Regions from separate parts of the Homo sapiens genome. Here region 1 is linked to region 2. Evidence: fine-mapped expression QTL. A gene starts in region 2. The other region holds a variant in brackets. All regions are shown on one strand. Distances are from middle to middle.

Evidence for each region. PIP is the estimated chance that this variant, and not a neighbour inherited with it, causes the effect.
Region 1: its variant is the best candidate, but not a certain one, in a credible set for the expression of SCD in whole blood (TOPMed, PIP 0.90).

The regions. Positions count from the first base shown.
Region 1 is chr10:100,387,243-100,397,940 of GRCh38, reverse strand. It overlaps OLMALINC (oligodendrocyte maturation-associated long intergenic non-coding RNA), which reads right to left. Exons shown (of 3, transcript NR_026762.1): 3 at 9,587-9,904. Among named protein-coding and RNA genes, the nearest start is that of OLMALINC, 19 kb to the right of the region's middle. The variant C/T (reference allele first, on the strand shown) is at 5,515.
Region 2 is chr10:100,341,025-100,351,193 of GRCh38, reverse strand. It overlaps SCD (stearoyl-CoA desaturase), which reads right to left and starts at 3,961. Exons shown (of 6, transcript NM_005063.5): 1 at 3,663-3,961; 2 at 2,848-3,130. The coding sequence starts at 3,689. RefSeq lists enhancers at 3,597-3,836, 4,217-4,286, 3,935-4,526, 8,468-8,762 and silencers at 4,067-4,116, 4,317-4,696.

The DNA of each region.
Region 1 (10,698 bases), 46 kb before region 2:
AAAGATGGGTGTGTGTGGTGGCTCATGCCTGTAATTCCAGCACTTTGGCAGGCCAAGGTGGGTGGATTGCTTGAGTCCAGAAGTTCAAGACCAACCTGGGCAACATGGCAAAATCCCATCTCTACTTAAAAAAGAAAAAATTCACCAGGTGTGGTGGCATGCGCCTGTAGTCCCAGCTACTCAGGGGGTTGAGGTGGGAAGATCACTTGAGCCCGGGAGGTGGAGGCTGCAGTGAGCCCTGATGGTGCCACTGCACTCCAGCCTGGATAACAGAGTGAGACCCTGTCTCAGAAACAAACAAACAAACAAAAGTTATATATTTTTTCCTTCTTCTTTAAAAAAAAAAAAATTTTTTTTTTTGAGACAGAGTCCTGCTCTATTGTCCAGGCTGGAATGCAATGGCACAATCTCGGCTCACTGCAACCTCCATCTCTCGGGGTCAAGCAATTCTCCTGCCTCAGCCTCCCAGGTAGCTGGGATTACAGGTGCCTGCCAACACGTCCAGCTAATTTTTTGTATTTTCTTTTAGTAGAAACGGGGTTTCACCATGTTGGCCAGGCTGGCCTTGAACTCCTGACCTCATGATCCGCCTGCCTCGGCCTCTCAAAGCACTGGGATTACAGGGGTGAGCCACGGCGCCCGGCCAGAAATATATGTATTTTAAAGAAAACTGAAAATAGAAACAAACAAACAAAAAATAATAGAAATATATATATTTACAGTTGCAGTTCCCTCAAATCTTTGCTCAAATTTTGCTTCTTCAATGATACTTACTTTGATCCTTCTATTATTATTATTATTATTATTTTTGAGACTCAGTTTCACTCTGTCACCCAGGCTGGAGTGCTGTGGCATGATCTCGGCTCACTGCAACCTCCACCTCCCAGGTTCCAGTGCTTCTCCTGCCTCAGCCTCCCGAGCAGCTGGGATTACAGGCACCTGCCACCATACCCAGCTAATTTTTGTATTACTAGTAGATACGGGTTTCGCCATGTTGGCCAGGCTGGTCTCGAACTGACCACAAATGATCTGCCTGCCTCAGCCTCCCAAAGTGCTGGGATTATAGACATGAGCCACTGCGCCCAGCCTGATCATTCTGTTAAATACTGCAGCCTACCACCTGCCCATTACTCCTGATTCAGCATTTCCTGCTGTACCATTTCTCTCTCTCTTTCTGTTTTTTTATAATAGAGATGGAGTCTTGCTATGTTACTCAGGCTGGTCCCTAACTCCTGGCCTCAAGCAGTCCTTCAACATCAGCCTCCCAAAGTACTGAAATTACAGGCATGAGCCACAGCACTTGGCCCTACTTTTTTTCATAGTGCTTTTAAACCTTATCTGCTGGGCGCAGTGGTTCACGCCTGTAATCCCAGCACTTTGGGAGGCTGAGACAGGTGGATCACCTGAGGTCAGGAGTTTGAAACCAGCTTGGCCAACATGATGAGACCCTGTCTCAACTAAAAATACAAAAATTAGCTGGGTGTGGTGACGGCACCTGTAATCCCAGCTACTCAGGAGGCTAAGGCAGGAGAATTGCTTGAACCCAGAAGGCAGAGGTTGCAGTGAGCTGAGGTCGCGCCACTGCTCTCCAGCCTGGGTAACTGAGCGAGACTCCGTCTCAGAAATAAATAAATAAATAAACCTTATCTATCTAATACTTACTATATAATCTACATATTGGGCCGTGCGCAGTGGCTCACGCCTTAATTCCAGCACTTTAGGAGGCTGAGGCAGGTGGATCACTTGAGGCCAGGAGTTCAAGGCCAGCCTGAGCAACATGGCAAAACCCCATCTCTATTAAAACTACAAAAATTAGCTGGGTGTGGTGGTGCATGCCTGCAGTCCCAGCTACTCAGGAGGCTGAGGCACAAGAATCACTTGAATCCCTTGAACCCGGGAGGCAGAGGTTGCAGTGAACCAAGATTGTACCACTGTACTCCACCCTGGGCGACAGAGAAAGACTGTTTCAAAAAAAATTTTTTTTTAATCTACATACTTAGATTTAATTTTTATAATCTGTTCCTCTGTTGTGCGTACACACACTAGAATGTAAACCCCACAAGTGTAAGGATATTCTATTCTGTTCCCTAATGTATCCAAATATTTGAATAGTACCTACCCTGATGAGGCACCCAGTAAATATGTGCAGGATAAATAGGTTCTGAGAGAGAGATTCAGGATAAAGAAGACATTTTGAACACATGCATTTGCTCCCTCCCCAAACTATAGTAAAATAACAGTAAAGGGTTTTTGAGAGGTATAATCCCACAAGGACAAAAGAATGGGGAAGAGACCACAATAAAATTTTGGAAGGTGGAAAACAGATTATGAGTAATAGCTGTCTTAGTAGAACCTGGAAAGCTGAAGCTTCAGCAGGCAGCGGGGGTAGCCAAAAGCAAAGTAGTTTACACCAAAGAACCCACAAAGGTTCAAGATTTGGTGGCCCCAGCTACCTTTGGAAGGGGAGGAGAAAGGGGAAGGTATGGCTAAGAATAGAATAATTGTTGAAGAAATTGTTAGTTCTCCTGACTCCAGGTAAAACACTGGAGGTCGATTCATCAGAAAGAGTGAAATCAAGGATCTCTTGACTGGGGAATACCAGAATCAGTTAAAGGCTGAGTTATAGCATCAGTCTGGGTCCATTCAGGAGACAGAAACTACACGGTATTATAGAAAAAAAGAGCAAAGGCTAAAGACTAATATTTGTATACCGAATGTTGGACTTCTTAGTCTTCCAAGAACTTCTCCTCTTTCAGCTTCTAGAATGCTGGTAACCAGGCCTGAACTCTCAGGCTGGAGATTGGAGGAAGCTTCTCTGCAGATTCTGACAACCTAAAAGAAAAAAAGCTATGATATAGGCAGGATGCAGTGGCTCACGCCTACAATCCTAGGGCACTTGGGGAGGCCAAAGCAGGCAGATCACTTGAGGCCAGGAGTTCAAGACAAGCCTGGGCAACATGGTGAAACCCTACCTCTATTAAAAATACAAAAACTAGGCTGGGCGCAGTGGCTCACACCTGTAATCCCAGCACTTTGGGAGGCCAAGGTGGGCGGATCACGAGGTCAAGAGATGGAGACCATCCTGGCCAACATGGTGAAACCCTGTCTCTAAAAATACAAAAATTAGCTGGGCGTGGTGGTGTGCACTTGTAGTCCCAGCTATTCGAGAGGCTGAGGTAGGAGAATCGCTTGAACCTGGGAGCAGAGGTTGCAGTGAGCCGAGATTGCACCACTGCACTCCAGCCTGGCAACAGTGCGAGACTCCATCTCAAAACAAACAAACAAACAAACAAAACTAGCCAGCATGGTGACACAGACCTGTAACCCCAGCTACTTGGGAGGCTGAGGCACAAGAATCTCTTGAACCCGGGAGGTGGAGGTTGCAGTGAGCTGTGATCACGCCACTACACTCCAGCCTGGGGCCTGGGCAACAGAGCGAGATCCTGTCTCAAAACAAAAACAAAACAAATAAACAAAAAAACTGTGATACTAGTATTGGGAATTACTCTAAGAAACCATCCAGTCAGAAAGACAGAGATGTGCTCATACTGAATGTGGCCTACCACATGTGCAGAGCCTCCAGCTGGCTTTTTGGTGCCGCATTGTTATACATAAACAGATAGCCAAGGATCATTCATTATCTGCAGAAACAAATCTGCCAAAACAGAAAACAGGACAGAAAAAACTTGGAGGGCAAGAGACTTTGTAGGGAAAGAAAAATATTCCCCAACTAATCACTAATATTCTTAAAGGAATAAGAAAATATTGCAGGCTGGGTGTTTTGGCTCACACCTATAATCTCAGCACCTTGGGAGGCTGAGGCTAGATAGAGGATTGCTTGAAGCTAGGAATTCAAGATCAGCCTGGGCAATAAAGCAAGACCCTGCCTCTAAAAAACAAAACAAAACAAAACACAAAACCCAGAAAATATTGCATCCATGGAAGCAGACAAGATACAGTAAAAAGGAAACATTCTAGCAGAATCTTTGAAAATTAAAGTATGATAACAGGTCTTAAAAACTCAATAGGGCTGGGTGTGGTGGCTCACGCCTGTAATCCCAGCACTTTGGGAGGCCGAGGCAGGTGGATCATCTGAGGTCAGGAGTTCAAGACCAGCCTGGCCAACATGGTGAAACCCGTCTCTACTAAAAATACAAAACTTAGCCGGGCGAGGTGGCGGGCATCTATAATCCCAGCTACTCGGGAGGCTAACACAGGAGAATCACTTGAACCTGGGAGGCGGAGGTTGCAGTGAGCCGAGATCGTGCCACTGCACTCCAGCCTGGGCGACAAGAGCGAAACTCCATCTCAAAAAAAAACCAAAAAACAAAACAAAAAAAACCCAACTCAATAGAAGGTTTGTAAGATGAAGTTCAGGGAATCTAGAAAGCCAAGCGAAAGTAAAAGGCATGGAAAATAATATAGGAACTTTTAAAAATAGAGAATCAATTCTGAAGACTCAAGAAAGAACAAAGAAAATGGAAGAGGAAGATGAAATCATCAATGAATCAAAAAACATCCTCAGAAATGAAGGAAAAGCATTTCTAGATTGAAATGGACTAGGAAACGTCTTTGATAATGGATGGAAATGGATCCATACCAAAGCACATCATCATGAAATTTTGGGAAACCAAGAACAAAGAGAATATCTTTAAAATATGCCTTTTTCACAAGACTAATAAAGAATGAGTTTCTCAGCTGGGCGCGGGGACCCACACCTCTAATCCCAGCAATTTGGGAGGCCAGGGCAGACAGATCACTTCAGGCCAGGAGCTTGAGACCAGCCTGGCCAACACTGTGAAACCCCGTCTCTACTAAAAATGCAAAAATTAGCCCAGCGTAGTAGTGCATGCCTATAGTTCCAGCTACAGGTTGAGGCACGAGAATCACTTGAACCTGGGAGGCAGAGGTTACAGTGAGCCGAGATCACGCCAGCACAGCACACTCCGGCCTGGGCAACATAGTGAGACTCTGTCCCAAAAAAAAAAAAAAAAAAAATAGAATGGGTTTATCCAAAGCAAGGGAGTAAATCAAGAAAGAGGAACACAAAGGATCCAGGAACAGGGGATCTAACACAGGAGAGAACAAGGCTGAAGAGAATTCCCAGGACAAAAATTATGTATGCAACAGGTTGAGAGAGTAACCAGTCCAGATTGGAGCATGTGAGGGGGCTCCAGGAGAGATTTCTTCAAGAAAATGAAATTGAAAAAATATCTGATGTGACCAAGTGTATTGAGAAGAGATGTAGACAACTGGGGCGGAGGTTGAGTTAAATTAATATATTAAGTACATAGAAAAATACAACTATTAGGTCCAAAAAGCACAAAAAGTTATGCAAGAGAGAAACATTACTCAGCTTACTTGGGTACATTACTTCGCTTATTTGTGAACAATATTTGCATAGTCACAGCAATATAAACACTGACTTTTTTTTTTTTTTTTTCCTGGAGACAGAGTCTTGCTCTGACTCCCAGGCCAGAGTGCAGTGGCGTGATCTCAGCTCACTGCAACCTC[C/T]GCTCCCCGGGTTCAAGCAATTCTCTGCCTCAGCCTCCCTAGTAGCTGGGATTACAGGCACCGCCACCACGCCCGGCTAATTTTTGTATTTTTAGTACAAAAATTTAGTAATTTTGTATTTTTAGCTCAAGCGAGGCTGGTCTTGAGCTCCTGACCACCGTGATCCACCTGCCTCAGCCTCCCAAAGTGCTGGGATTACAGGTGTGAGCCACCACACCCGGCCAACACTATTTAATTAACCAAATTTTTTACAACACAAGTGTATTGAGAGGACAGAGAAAGTGAAGCATGCAGATACTATGTGAATGAGTGAGGATGTGGTAGGGATGGCACTGGTGATGGTGAAAAAGATAAAATTCTCATCTTCTCTGGTGAGAAGTTCATAAATAATGTAAACATGTTTAAGTTAATACGTAGTCATATAAGCCTTTAGAGATAAGTCATTTAGAGATACAGAGGTAAATGCCAGAAGGTTCCATTAAGAGAAGTTGAAAGTGGTTACCTTTGAGGAGCTGAAAATGGTGAGGAGAGGAGGCCAGGGCACTGCTATTTCAAAACAAGCCGTATGGCAGGGGTTGGGGAGTGGGGGGGATGGGGAAAAGCCTTATAAGGCCATTTAACTCTTTAAATCATGTACAAGTATAACTTAGATATAAAATAAGAACAAAATACAAAGAGACTATAGGAGACTTTTCCAAGTGAACAGAGCCCATGGGAGGCCCCCACCCCCAATCTATTTCTCTGACATTGTCTTATGTGATATCCCACCAATCTTCCCCCAGCCCCGCACTCAAACAAGGGTGCTGACAAGAGCAGAAGGGAGACATTGGTTGAGTCTGGATCTGCCCTGTCAGGCTCTTGTTAGAAGCCCGAGTCAGCAGCCCATTAACACTAGATTACTTCTCTCTAGGCAAGTTAAAGATTTTTCTACTGAAATTACAAATACCAAAACCAGACTGACTCAATCCTAATGTGTTTCTTCTTCCTTACATTCCACTGAACATCTTGATTCCAAAACCCATGATTCTAAACACACCTTCTGCTCCTTTCTTGAGGTTTTCCTCCGTTCATTGCTAGAATGGCCTTGGGGTCCATCTGCCTTTGGTAGCACTCACACTTGCCAAGTTTTTTAACACTTGGGTAACAAACTATGTTGTTACCCTTTCACCTCACTCTCTTGCCTTCACTGAGGATAAAAGGCAGAGGTACTATTAGCTGTGCTTTTTTTTTTTTTGGTGAAGAATATTACCTTTACCTAACAAATTCTACAATATTTTTCCTTTTCCTTCACTGGCTATTCTACTGGCTCTGATTCTAAGGCTGGTCCATGACATAAATAAGGAACTGTTTGGGGAACAAAGATGGAATGACCTTGGTAAACCAGGCGTGCTCATCCACTCACTGCATAGTACTCAAGGGAGAAGAATGTCTCATTTCAGATTAGTTCAAAACAAAACGTTTCACTTTGTCCTTGTCTCTGACCTAGACAACCCTCTTATCTGTGATAAAGAAGGCATGCTTATGCTATTTTCCACTAAATAAAGCTAGAAGAGATATTTAATATCTTGGAAGACTGAATTGGGATTCATAAAGCTCTCAATAGGTTCCAAAGTTAGAATTAACAAATAAATGAAATTTACCAGGGAAATATATATATATATATATATATATATATATATAATATATATATTTATTGAGATGGAGTCTTGCTCTGTCGCCCAGGCTGGAGTGCAGTGGCGCAATCTCAGCTCACTGCAACCTCCGCCTCCTGGGTTCAAGCCATTCTCCTATCTCAGCCTCCCGAGTAGCTGGGACTACAGGCGCATGCCACCCTGCCCGGCTAATTTTTTGTATTTTTAGTAGAGACAGGGTTTCACTGTGTTAGCCAGGATGGTCTCGATCTCCTGACCTCATGATCTACCTGCCTTGGCCTCCCAAAGGGCTGCAATCACAGGCGTGATGAACTGCACCTGGCCAACCAGGGATACATTTAAAGTCCCATGCTTATGTTCAAAATATTAATTTCACCAACATAGGATAAGGAAGACTTAGCTTAACAGTTCAAGTGAAAAAGGCTATGAGTCTTGGCTGACTACAAACTTAACAAGTTGTTTTTTTATTTTTATTTTTATTTTTATTAGTTTTTTAGGCTTAAGGAGTTGAGAGCAGGAAGTGGCTAGGGAGTGACTACCAAAATGTAAATACTTCTCTTTTTACTTCTGACAACACAGGCAAGACTGAGTGCATCTATCAGTTCACAAATAAATATTTACTGAGGATCTGCTATGTGTCTAGTATGAGGAAGGGGCTGTGGCAGTAGAACAAAAGGAAAAACCCAAGGATCTTTGAACAGGTTGGACAGACAACATATACATAAAAATAATAGCAGTGATGATCACTTACATTTCAATAGTGCTTTATTATGTCTTTCATTTATACGACCTCTTTTTACTTCATAGCTGCCCTATGAGGTAGTAAGTCAAATACAGTTATCATTTTATTTATTTATTTTTTAATTTCTGAGACAGAGTCTCACTCCGTCGCCCAGGCTGGAGTGCAGTGGCGCAATCTTGGCTCACTGCAACCTCTGCCTCCTGGGTTCAAGTGATTCTCCTGCCTCAGCCTCCCAAGTAACTGGGATTACAGGTGCGTGCCACCCTACCTGCCTAATTTCCATATTTTTAGTAGAGATGGGGTCTCACTGTGTTGGCCAGGCTGGTTGCGAACTCCTGGCATCAAATGATCTGCCTGCCTCAGCCTCCCAAAGTGCTGGGATTACAGGCATGAGCCACCAAGCCCGGCCAGTTATCATTTTAAAGATGAGAAAACTGAGGCTGAGAGAAGTTAAAGCAGTGATTCTCAAACGTTTAGCTCTCAACCCCTTTATATCCTTAAAATTATTTAGGTACCTCACACTACATACAAAAATGAAATCAAAAGGGATCGAAGACCTAAATGTAAGAGCTGTAATTATAAAACTCTTAAAAGAAAACTAAGTGTAAATCTTTGTGACCTTGAAACAATGGCTTCTTTAATGTGACACCAAAAGCACAAGAAACAAAATAAAAAATGGATAACTGGACTGCATCAAAATTAAAAAGTTTAATGCTTCAAAAGATACTAGCAGCGAGGTGTGGTGGCTCACGCCTGTAATCCCAGCACTTTGGGAGGCTGAGGTGGGAAGATCGCTTGAGTCCAGGAGTTTGAGACCAGCCTGGGCAACATAGTGTGATCTCATATCTACAAAAAAAAATTTTAAAAATTAGCCAGGCTTGGTGGCACACACCTGTGATCCCAGCTACTTGGGAGGCTGAGGCGGGAGGATTGCTGGGGCCTGGGAAGTTGAGGCTTCAGTGATTTGTGTTCAGGCCACTCCATTCAAGCCTGAGCAACAGAAAGAGATGTCTCCAAAAAAAAAAAAAAACAGATAAAATAACAATAAAAACCTATTACTATTATAACAGTTTTTTAAAGGAAAATAACTATTTTCCAAAGCAAACAAATATTTAGTGAGATGAGAGTCATTCTACATTTTTACTAATCTCATTAATGTCTGACTTAATAGAAGACAGCTGGATTCTCATATCTATTGCCATATGTTGTTTGGTTGAAATAGATGAAGAAAATCTAATCTCATTCAAATATGTAGTTGGAAAAGGGAGGAGGATTTTTTTTTTTCTTTTTGAGATAGAGTCTCACTCTGTCACCCAGGCTGGAGTGCAGTGGGCCAATCTCGGCTTCCTGCAACCTCTGCCTCCCAGGCTCAAGCGATCTTCCTGCTTCAGCCTCACAAGTAGCTAGGAATACATGCACATGCCACCACGCCCAACTAATTTTTGTATTTTGGTAAAGATGAAGTTTCACCATGTTGTCCAGGCTGGTCTTGAATTCCTGGACTCAAGTGATCCATCCACTTTGGCCTCCCAAAGTGCTGGGATTATACATGTGAGCCACCACAGGGAGAAGGATTTCAATAGATAATTGTGGATATTCTTCTTTGATACTACACTAAAACTCAACAAGTGTAGTGTCACGCACGTCCTTGTGAAGAGACCACCAAACAGGCTTTGTGTGAGCAACAGGGCTGTTTATTTCACCTGGGTGCAGGCGGGCTGAGTCCAAAAAGAGAGTCAGCAAAGGGTGGTAGGATTATCATTAGTTCTTATAGGTTTGGGATAGGTGTACAAAGTACATTCTCAAGGGCGGGGGAAGAATATATGGTATCAGTTAGCGTGGGGCAGGAACAAATCACAATGGTGGAATGTCATCAGTTAAGGCTACTTTCACTTCTTTTGTGGATCTTCAGTTGCTTCAGGTCATCTGGATGTACACGTGCAGGTCACAGGGGATTTGATGGCTTAGCTTGGACTCAGAGGCCTGACACTCCTATCTTCTTATATTAGTATGAAAAACAAAACAAAATAGTGGTGAAGTGTTGAGGCAGCGAAAATTTTTGGGGGTGGTATGGAGAGATAATGGGCGATGTTTCTCGGGGCTGCTTTGAGTGGGATTGGGGTGGCATGGGAACCTAGAGTAGGAGAGATTAAACTGAAGAAAGATTTGGGTATAAGGGGTGATATTGTGGGCTTGTTAGAAGGAGTATTTGTCGTATAGAATGATTGTTGATGGCCTGGATGCAGTTTTGTATGAATTGAGAAACTAAACAGAAGGAAGACACAAGGTCCGAATAAGAGAAAGAGAAAAATAGGTATTAAAGGACTAAGAATTGGAAGGACCCAGGACATCCAATTAGGGAGTGCCCAAGGGGGTTCAGCATAATTATTTGCTTGGTTGGCGAATTTTTGGGGTCTATCCTTGAGTTTTTTTATGTTGTCATACACCAGGCCAGATTGATTTAGGTAAAAACAACACTCTTCGTTTAAAAATATACAGGGTCCTCTTTTTTTAGCAGTGAGTAAGTCGAGGCCTTGGCGATTTTGGAGGAAAGAGAAATGCAAAGCCAGCAGTTGTTTGTTAAAGAAGGATTAGAGGGCCGGGCATAGTGGCTCACGCCTGTAATCCCAGCACTTTGGGAGGCTGAGGTGGGCGGATCGTGAGGTCAGGAGATGGAGACCATCCTGGCTAACATGGTGAAACCCCATCTCTACTAAAAATACAAAAAATTAGCCAGGCATGGTGGCAGGCACCTCTAGTCCCAGCTACTTGGGAGGCTGAGGCAGGAGA
Region 2 (10,169 bases):
CTCTGTTCAGTAGCTCTAGCAGGCAGAAGCTGTGGCCTTGATAGAAACTCTTAACAATGTTTCATTCCTAGGGAAACAGCTAGAAACAATAGATCCTCAGTGGCCACAGAACTTAGTTGCAGTTGGAGACACCACACATTGTAACAAATTGTCCTGTGTTCTTTTGCAGCCATTGATAGCTGTTTCCTAAACAACCTCCTTTTCCCCCCAACCCTACCTCCTTTCTTCTCTTCTATTCCTCCTATAAGATCTCCAGGAGAGCCACAGAGCCAGTCAGCCCCAACAAGAGCTCTCTCCACATTCCCTCAGAGTGGGGACTGAGGCCCCAGGTGATCTGCCCTCAAGCCAAGTGGTGACTGACATCTCCCCAGATACAGTATCTACCTGCATCTTACTCGGGAAACCATCAGTTGAGCCAGAGCTCTCTCTAATGAGCAAGGGAGCTTCTAGGGTTGTTATTTGCTGCAAGACCCTAGGGCAGTGTTGACTCAGAACGTATATAAGATCCTATATTAACAGGGAAATTGGGGAAAGAACTCAGGCACTCTGGTGCCTTTTCTAGAAACACCTCTAAGCCTATCAAATAGAAGGGCTTAAATCAGTTGGAGATTTATTCCTTCTCTCCTCCCCAGGGGAGGAAAATGTCCAGATTGATGGTTAAGCAACATCTCATTGCTCTGGCCTTAAGAAAGAGACTTGAATGGTTTTGCCTCTGGCTCTCAGTGTTGCCAGAGGCATTCTCCTAAGGGCTTCTTTGGGAGACTCCAAAATGAAAGAGATTTAAGGCTCTCAAAAGTGCTCAGTCATAAGAAATGCTGGAATCACGACCAGTTGCTAATTTAACATTGTCCATAGGGATTAAAACAAGAAAGGTGAAGCTCCTAAATTCTGAAGGTGGGAAGAGAAGATGTCCAAGTTGAGACCTCTGACCCTCCTCCCCTCACCCTCCTTGTTTCTCAAGACAGAGGAGTTCTGATATCCCCACATCGACATGGTCATTCTTTCAGCTAAGCCATCCACCAAAGGGCCCAGTAAAATAAGTTACCATCTAGTCTCTGTGAGCCACATTTATCTGCCCAAGGGCACAGCACACACCCATGGGCAGGTCACCAAAAAAATGTAGCAGGCACAGCCTTCACTTTGGGATGGAATTCTGCTCCTTGCAGTAGCAACTGAGGATAACCAAGCAGAGGCAATCGGGTCAAACTCTGGGCTTCAGGAAACCTACAGGGGGTGCTGAGGCTGGAAGGAGCTTGCAGGAGAGAAAACTACTTGTGAAGACTATCCTCTTGGGGAGAAAGGGTGGAGAGAGGCATCCACAGACTGCCTGGGGAATGCTATCCCTGCTCCTCATCCCTCAGCTGCAACTGAAGTTCTGCTGGATCCTCAGAGGGGCTAGACAACAGATGTCGCCCTCCCCTCACAAATACAAGAGCTCTTCCTGGTATGCAGATGAACTGATCTGCACCTGGCCTGTTCTGTCTCTGCGGCTGTGACACATATGTAACCCAAGGAATGCTACCTTCCCCATCCTAAAAAAGTACTGTTGCCCACAGGTGGTACCTAGAAAAACTGAGATCCTGACAAAGGGGCTCTTCTCAGTTGCATTTCACTGTAGCACCTGGAGGATTTCTGGAAACAAAAGCTCAATGAACCAGATCTCACCATCTTCAGAAGACCTAAGAGGTCCTGAGGGAAACAGCTAAAACTTGGCCTACCAGCCCTTCTGCATAACTACCCTTCAAGAGCGAGCTGTCAGAAAGTTTCCCACACCAGAAGTCCTGGCTCACCACCCCTTAGAGAGTAGCAGTGCAGGGCCCCTGGATCTGCAGAGCTCCCTGCTTTCCCTTCCCAACTTAGGCTCATAGTGACAGAGGTGAAAAAGCCTGCAAAGCGCATGTGTGTATCCAGGGGGCAGGGCCATGCCATCAGGCCACACCAACAGGTCCCTGAAAGAGCTGAGCTAAGGGCAGGTCGGGGACAAACTGGGAACTGTCTCCCTCATTACAGCAGCCTCAAGACCGGGCTCTCTTTTCTGGCCTGGCCTCGATGTCCCTGGCAAGGAGGGATGGGTAGGACTGGTGTTGGAAGGTGCAGAATTCTTGGCACTTCATGGCATCAGTAGGGGGGCCTGAAGCAGGCTGGACGGGGGATGGAACATGAAACATATCTTCAGCCTGATTTCATTCTAAGAGCATTTTGTTGACTGGTATGTGCAGCACCCTGGAATGTAGAGTAACAGAGCAACACACACCTGTGTGACTTGGGTTGCACGGGAGCTTCATCTTCCTCTGTAACGAAGAAGCCTGGTCTGGCCAAGGGGTCAGGTCAAAATAGTTTTGTGGATAACAACCTCTCTTTTCCTCTCTTTCCAATGAGCTCTCTCCTCCCTTTCCAATAAACTCTCTCCCTGAGTAGTTTCCCTTGTGCTAGCCTATGATTGCTCAACACAAACCCTAGAAAGCCAATGGTTTAGTACCATGTTCCCATGCCTCCCAGGTAGAGGGGTTTGATTCTTTTGTGGCTGGCAGGGGTGGGACAGGCAGCCAAGCAAATGACTCAAACAGAAAAGCTCTTTCAGGGAAAGCTGACTCTCCAGCACAGCACACTTCAAAGCCCACAAGCACAAGGTTCCAAAGCTCTCAACCCCCAGCATTGACAGTCCTGCATCTCAGTACCCCCAGGTTCTTCCCAGCCCACTAGGCCTGAAGCAACCAAAGAGAAATGCCTGAGAAAAACCCCAACCGGGAGGCTGGGAGGGGCTGGTGTCCTCTGTAAGATCCTACCTTATTAAAAGAGCAGTGAGTACCTGGAGGACTAGGTCAGGAGGACAGGGAGGCTGCTTACCCCAAAGCCAGGTGTAGAACTTGCAGGTAGGAATCAAAGTGATCCCATACAGGGCTCCCAAGTGTAGCAGAGACATAAGGATGATGTTTCTCCAGACATATTCAACCTTGGGGCTTGGGCCTTCCTTATCCTTGTAGGTGGGGTCATATATATCATCTTTTATATCAGGGCGAATGTCGTCTTCCAAGTAGAGGGGCATCGTCTCCAACTTATCTCCTCCATTCTGCAGGACCCTGGAGGGAGGCGCTGTAATGGTGGTGGTGGTGGTATAGGAGCTAGAGATCTGGAAGGGGGAGGAAGAGGAGAGTCAGGAGAAGAGACACGTGGAGGCAGCTGGGGCCACTCCGCTCTCTAATCACGCTGGGGGAAGGGTGGACAGTACGGACCCTTCCGCAGCGCCGTAGTTCACTGAGGGTAGGGTGTATCCGAGACGCAACGGAGAAAAGTTCCCTGAAACTGTACAGATACATTAGGGGCGGAGGGCGAGGGGGACGAGGGGCGCGAAACCTATCGGGAGGCGGCAGTAGGAAGGAGAAGTAAAGCACTCACATCCCCACGAAGACAAAGGAAAACCCGCATAATTCATAAAAGCACCAGCACGACCGGATTTTTCTTTAAAGCTTAAGAAACTAAAGTTGGAGACTCAAGTCCCCAAATTACAATCCACATTCCCAACTCACGGAAGGCAGCACAACTCGAAAAAGATGACCAAGTCCTCCGCGGAGCTCTCCCCTCTCTTCTGCCACCAACCCGTCCCCTGGAAGCCCAGCCCGCGCCTGCGACCCGGCGGTACGGGGCCAGGCTGGGAAACTCACATCGTCCTGCAGCAAGTGGGCCGGCATCTTGGCTCTCGGATGCCGGGATCACTTTCCAGGGGGCTGAGGCTCCGGAGCGGAGTTCGGGGTCGCCGGAGGACTGCGGTTTCGAAGCCCGCCGGTACGCGCTGAGCCGCGGCGCCTTGCACGCTAGCTGGTTGTCGGCGCTAGCCGCGGTGCGTGGAGGTCCCCGAGCCGGGAATTTAAAGGCTAGAGCTGGCAACGGGTGACCGTGTCCGGTATTTCCTCAGCCCCCTTTTATCCGCTGCCAAGCAGGGGCAAAGTGCGAGGAGTTGACTGGCGCGGGCGGTCCCGCGTGGAGGTAAGGGCGGGAGGGGGAGGAGACAGAGGCCGAGGCTCGCGGCGACCGCAGCAGGGCGCCGGGGATGCTGCCGACACCGACACCACACCACCCGGCCTCTGCCCCTGCCCCTGCCTCTGGGGAAATGCTAATGAGGCTTCTGTAAACTCCGGCTCGTCATTGGCCGAAGGGAATTTGGTGCCACCTCGTCCTGCCGTTGCCATTGGCTCGGCGCAATCTGCTGTTCCCTCTGCCGCCAGCTCCTCGCTCCCCCTCCCCTCTGTTTCTCCTTCTCAGCTTCTCTTCCACCCGCCGCTGGGCCTCTGCCCGGCATCCCGCGTCGGGAGCTTTCTCTCTGGAAGGGGCTGGGGACCCGGTTTGGGGCTGGGGCGCGGAGCCTAGCCCAGGACCGGCCCTCGGGCACACGGAGAACGGGTGGGTGGGCACTGGGGAAGTTTCTCAGGAAACAGTGGTGAACCCTCGGGGGGCGCCCACCACTAACATCTCCGTCCCGTCTTCCGTCCCCCCAGGCGCGTGGCAGGGAGACGTGGCAGCCACCCCAGGATCTGGAGCTTGGGGGACGCGGGAAGCCCCGCCTCCCTCCCGGGCGAGCGCGGGGGACTCGGTACGCCTGCGAACAATGGCTCTGCCCCGCCCACCAGCCACGCGCTGCTCACCCGGGACCGCACCGGACTCCGGCCGCACACACAGGCTGGCTGGTGTGTGTGTGCCTGCGCGCACGCATCCTGTTCAGGACCCGGGCGGGCAGTCCCATCCCCAAGCCCGCGCCTCCAGGATGCGTGCGGGATGTTTTGGAGATTCTTCAGACTGGCAGGTTGTAATTTTGGAATCTTCTTTGTGGAAACCGTCAGGAAACACTGACATGTGTTTTCACCCAGCAGCAGGCGAAAGGGCTTGGATGTGGAATAAGAATAGCTGGCAGGTATTGAATTATTACTGCAAGCCAATTCACAAGAATCGTTTTCTGTAAGCCTCTCTGTGACCCTGGGAGGTGGGTACCCCATTATTCCATTTTAAAAGTGAGGAAAGAGATATGGAGAGATGGAATAACTTGCCCATGGTCACAGCAACCAGTAAGTGATGGAGCTGGCAGTTGAGCCCAGAAACACCATATGAGAGCCCAAGCTCTTAATCCCTGCTCAGGACCATATTGCCCTCGGTCCCTGAGATGCTCTGACCCTACTGATCTGTCCCTGTGCCCCCATCTTTTCCGTGTCTGTAGGAGCCTTACCATGAGAGCTCAGAACCAGGCAGGCTATGCATTCACCCGGTGTCCTTCCATGCCCATGTCTTTCCCAAATACTGCCCTAGGATCCTTCCCCTGGGAAGAGGAGAAAATACGGAGTGCTGCGCCAATGATTCACTTCCCAGGAAGACAAGCACCTGGGATTTCCTGGGAGGTAGACTAAGCAGCTCCTTTGTTGGCCACTGGTCTCAGGGTCAGGCCAACTCTCTGGCCAGTGACCAGGAGACTGCATTCCAGTCCTGGCTCCCTGTCCGGTGTGAAAGTTCTGAACAAGACTGGATGATTTCAGATGTGGACAGCTCATCCAGTCATGCCTCAGAAGTACTTGGCATGTGGCACAGAAATCTGTACGTGGTCTGACCCCCTTCAGGTTCTCTCTGCAATGTCTAATTTGCTTAATTCTTTTGTTTTTTGTTTTTTTGAGAGGAAGTCTCGCTCTCTCCCCCAGGCTGGAGTGCAGTGGTGTGATCTCGCTTCACTGCAACCTCTGCCTCCCGGGTTCAAGAAATTCTCCTGCCTCACCCTCCCAAGTAGCTGGGATTACAGGCATGCGCCACCACACTTAGCTAATTTTTTGTATTTTTAGTAGAGACGGGGTTTCACCATGTTGGCCAGGCTGGTTTTGAACTCCTGACCTCAGGTGATCCACATGCCTTGGCCTCCCAAAGTGCTGGGATTACAGGCATGAGCCACCACGCCTGGCCCGGAGAATATTTTCATTCTATTTCTCTTTCGAGCAGAGATCACCTCTACTCCTGAGGCCCTGGTCACACTGTGGTTCTCAAGTGACAGTGGTCAAACCAACACACTGATTTGGATTCTAAGATTTATTTTTTTTGGTCTGGGGGCCCTACCTCAGCAAAAGGAACAATAGTTACAACAATTATGACAGCAAAAAGTTTGAGACCAGCTTGGCCAACAAAGTGAAATCCCATCTCTACTAAAAATACAAAAATCAGCTGGGCATGGTGGGAAGTGCCTGTAGTCCCAGCTACTTGGGAGGCTGAAGCAGGAGAATTGCTTGAACCCGGGAGGCGAAAGTTGCAGTGAGCTGAGATCACACCACTGCCCTCCAGCCAGGGTGAAAGAGCAAGACTCTTTCTCAAAAAAAAAAAAAAAATTGTGATTTTTTATTATTTTGTTTACAGCCAAGCTCCTTAATTTTGGTATTCAAAGTGCTTCATGATTTTACTCTGAACGCCCTATTCCAGCCTTAATTCTCACTTCTCACTTAGTATAACTTGTATCTTCATCAAACTGCACATTTGTCAACAGAATATAAAATAAAACTCCGAAAAACCCCTGCACTCTTGCTGATTTCTAAACATGCTTCATTTTCCCAAGTTTTTCTTCCCCTGAACTCTGCCTGTCAAAATATTACCCGGGATCCAGCAATTCCACTCCTAGATATAAACCCAACAGAAATGAAAACATATGCCCACACAAATGTATACATGAATATTCACTGGAGTATTATTCATAATGGTCAAAAAGTGGAAACAACCTAAATGTCTGTCAACTGACTAATGAACAGATAAGATGAGCACTTTGGGAAGTGGAGGTGGGGGGATCATGGCAACATAGTGAGACCTTGTCTCAACAATAAAAATACAGCCTGAGCAACATAGCAAGACCTCCTCTATACCAAAAATCATTTTTTAAAACTTAGCTGGGCCTGGTGGCACAAGCCTGTAGTCCCAGCTACTCAGGATGCTGAGGCCAGCGGATTGCTTGAGCCCAGGAGGGGAGGCTGCAGTGAGCTATTATTACGCCACTGTACTCCAGCCTGGGCAACAGAGTGATACCCTGTTTCAAGAAAAAAAATATCAGCCAGGCATGGTGACACGTGTTTGTAGTCCCAGCTACTTGGGAGGCTGAGGCAGGAGGATCACTTGAGCCCAGGAAGTCAAGGCTGCTCAGCTGTCACCATGCCACTGCCCTCCAGCCTGGGTAACAAAGTGAGACCCTATCTCAAAACAACAACAACAAAAAAGAAAGAAAATGAATACATAAAATGAAAATTAAAAAAAAAAATTAGCCAGGTATGGCTGTGTGTGCCTGTAGTCCTAGCTACTCTGGAGGCTGAGGTAGTAGGATCACTTGAGCCCAGGAGTTTGAGGTTACAGTGAGCTATGATTGTGCCACTGCACTCCAGCCTGGGTGACAGAGTGAGAACCTGTCTCTAATAATATGATATGGGATACCCACACAGTGGAATACCATTTGAGAATAAAAAAGAATGAAGTACTGCTAAGTACTGTAACATAATGAGCCTTAAAAATAGAATGCTAAGTGAAAGCAGCCAGTCACAAAGTCTCACATGTTGTTTGCTTCCATTTATATGAAATGTCCAGAATTGGCAAATTTATAGAGACAGAAAGTAGATTGGTGGTTGCCCAGGGCTTGGAAGGAGGATGGAGGATGTTGGGGGGTGATGGCTAAGGAATGCAGGGTTTATTTTTGGAGTAATAAAACTGTTCTAAAATGGATTGTGATGGATGCACAACCTGTGAATATACTAAAAGCCATTAAATTGTATGATTTAAATGGATGAATTCTATGGTATATAAATTATATCTCAATAAGAAAAGTATAAAAAAAAAAAAAAACTAAAGACTGGGCATGGTGGCTCACGCTTGTAATGCTAGCACTTTTGGGAGGCCGAGGCGGGTAGATCGCCTGCGGTCAGGAGTTCCAGATCAGCCTGGGCAACATGGTGAAACCCCGTCTCTACTAAAAATACAAAAAATTAGCCCAGGGTGGTGGCGGGCACCTATAATCCTAGCTGCTTGGGAGGCTGAGGCAGGCTGAGGCAGGACAATCGCTTGAACCTGGGGGGTGGGGGTGGAGTCTTGCTCTGTTGCCCAAGCTGGAGTGCAGTGGCACGATCTCAGCTCACTGCAACCTCCACCTCTGGGGTTCAAGCAATTCTCCTACCTCAAGCTCCCAAGGAGCTGGGATTACAGGCGTGCACCACCACACCCGGCTAATTTTTGTATTTTTAGTAGAGATGAGATTTTGCCATGTTGGCCAGGCTGGTCTCAAACTCCTGACCTCAAGTGATCCACCTGCCTTGTCCTCCGAAAGTGCTGTGATTACAGGCGTCAGCCACTGTATCTTTATAACTCTAGATGATTGAGCTATAGGCTCCAGAGGAAAGGTACACTCCAGACCAGCTCCAGAGAACGAGAGAAGACTTCCCGGAGGAGACGGTGCTAAATCCGAAGGGACCATTAAGGGTGAGTGTGGAGAAGGGCAGTTGGCAAGTTCAGAGACCTAGAGGAGGAAAAGACTGACCTGATATACTATGAACGAGGACCCTTGAATATGGCTCCTCCTGGGCCCCAGGCTGGATAGATGGTGTAGCACGTCTTTCCCCGGTAGAGAAGAGGCCAGTGCACTAGCCCCACACCTCCCTCTGTTGGCAGACATCTGTCTCTCCACACTATCCACAGAGCCATGATCTTCCTCTCACTCCAGCCCTTTCTGTGTGTGCTCACACACGGGAATGTCTGCACACACAGGTATGCATACTGGCGGACGGGCCTCCACCAACTTATTGTTACCTATCCCTGGGGCCCTGGGGTACGTCCTCAGATCAGATAGTGCGTGTGACTGGAAGCAGTTTATGTCTCAGGGCAGAATGTGTGAGATGGGTACTGACAGTCCCAGCAGATGAGGCCTGGGGACAAATGTCTTAGGACCAGGACCAGGGCCAGAGATTTCTGCAGTGGTCTGACCTTACAAAGATGCCTTTTCCCAGGCCACAGACTACTCCCTCCCTCCTCTGGAGGCCCATAGGGGATCTTTCCCCAGCCTGGAAGGCTACCCCATTCTGAGCAAGCCATCTAGGATGAACACATGGAGAGGAAAAGCAAACACAGGCCTAGGGCCTCCAACAACAAATAAACAAGCTGAAGGGAAAGTCTCTCTTGCCCTGACTCAGCTTCTGAGCCAAAGTAAAGAGAGAAGAGCAGCTTGCCCCCGCGTTTTTTCTTTCTTTCTTTCTTTTTTTTCTTTTTGAGACGGAGTCTTGCTCTGTTGTCAGGTTGGAGTGCAGTGGTACAGTCTTGGCTCACTGCAACTTCTGCCTCCCAGAATCAAGCAATTCTCCTGCCTCAGCCTCCCAAGTAGCTGGGATTACAGGTGCATGCCACCCCTCCTGGCTAACTTTTGTATTTTTAGTAGAGATGGGGTTTCACCATACTGGCCAGGCCAGTCTCGAACTCCTGACCTCGTGATCTACCCGCCTCAGCCCCCCAAAGTGTTGGGATTACAGGCATGAGCCACCGTGCCCGGCTCCTGTGTTGCCTTCCTGGTCGTAGAGAGGTAAATCCCCATTTGCTTCCTGCAGTTGCTAAGAGTGCTCCCAGGAAGGTCACACTCTCTTCCAGAGTTCTGAACCCATGCCTCTCTCCCTGCTGTAGGTGAAAGGAACAGGCAGGCCCTGGCCATTCCTGGCCCTTCACCCCTTTTGCTTCTCTCCTCCCAACTGCCCCTCCCAAGCTGCTGCTTCCCCTACAAGGGAACTGTTTCCTGAGTCCTTCTAGCCTCGTGCCCCAGCCAGCCATCTCTCTCCTGGCCTTCCCTTTGCCTGACAGTAACCTCTCCCACAGCTGATGTCACCCTGGCTTTGCACTGACACAGCAGCTGAGCTGGGCACAGCAGGGCTGCGAGGTCCAGAGGGCAGCTGGCTATGTCTGAGGCCAAGCTTCCCTCAGTGCTCGCCCAGGGCTTTTCCTCAGCCAAGAGCCTGCTTCTCTCCCATTCTGTGCCTCTAAGCCAACGTAGCCACATGGGGATAGAGTGTTGACTGAGCCTCCCCTGTGCCCAGCGGAAAGTCAATTCTCTGCTGTGTGGGGGAGAATGGAGCCAAAGTTCTGCTCCCACCCCTGGGGAGCTCACAGATTTCTAAGAGAAACAGGACAAAGCACAATAG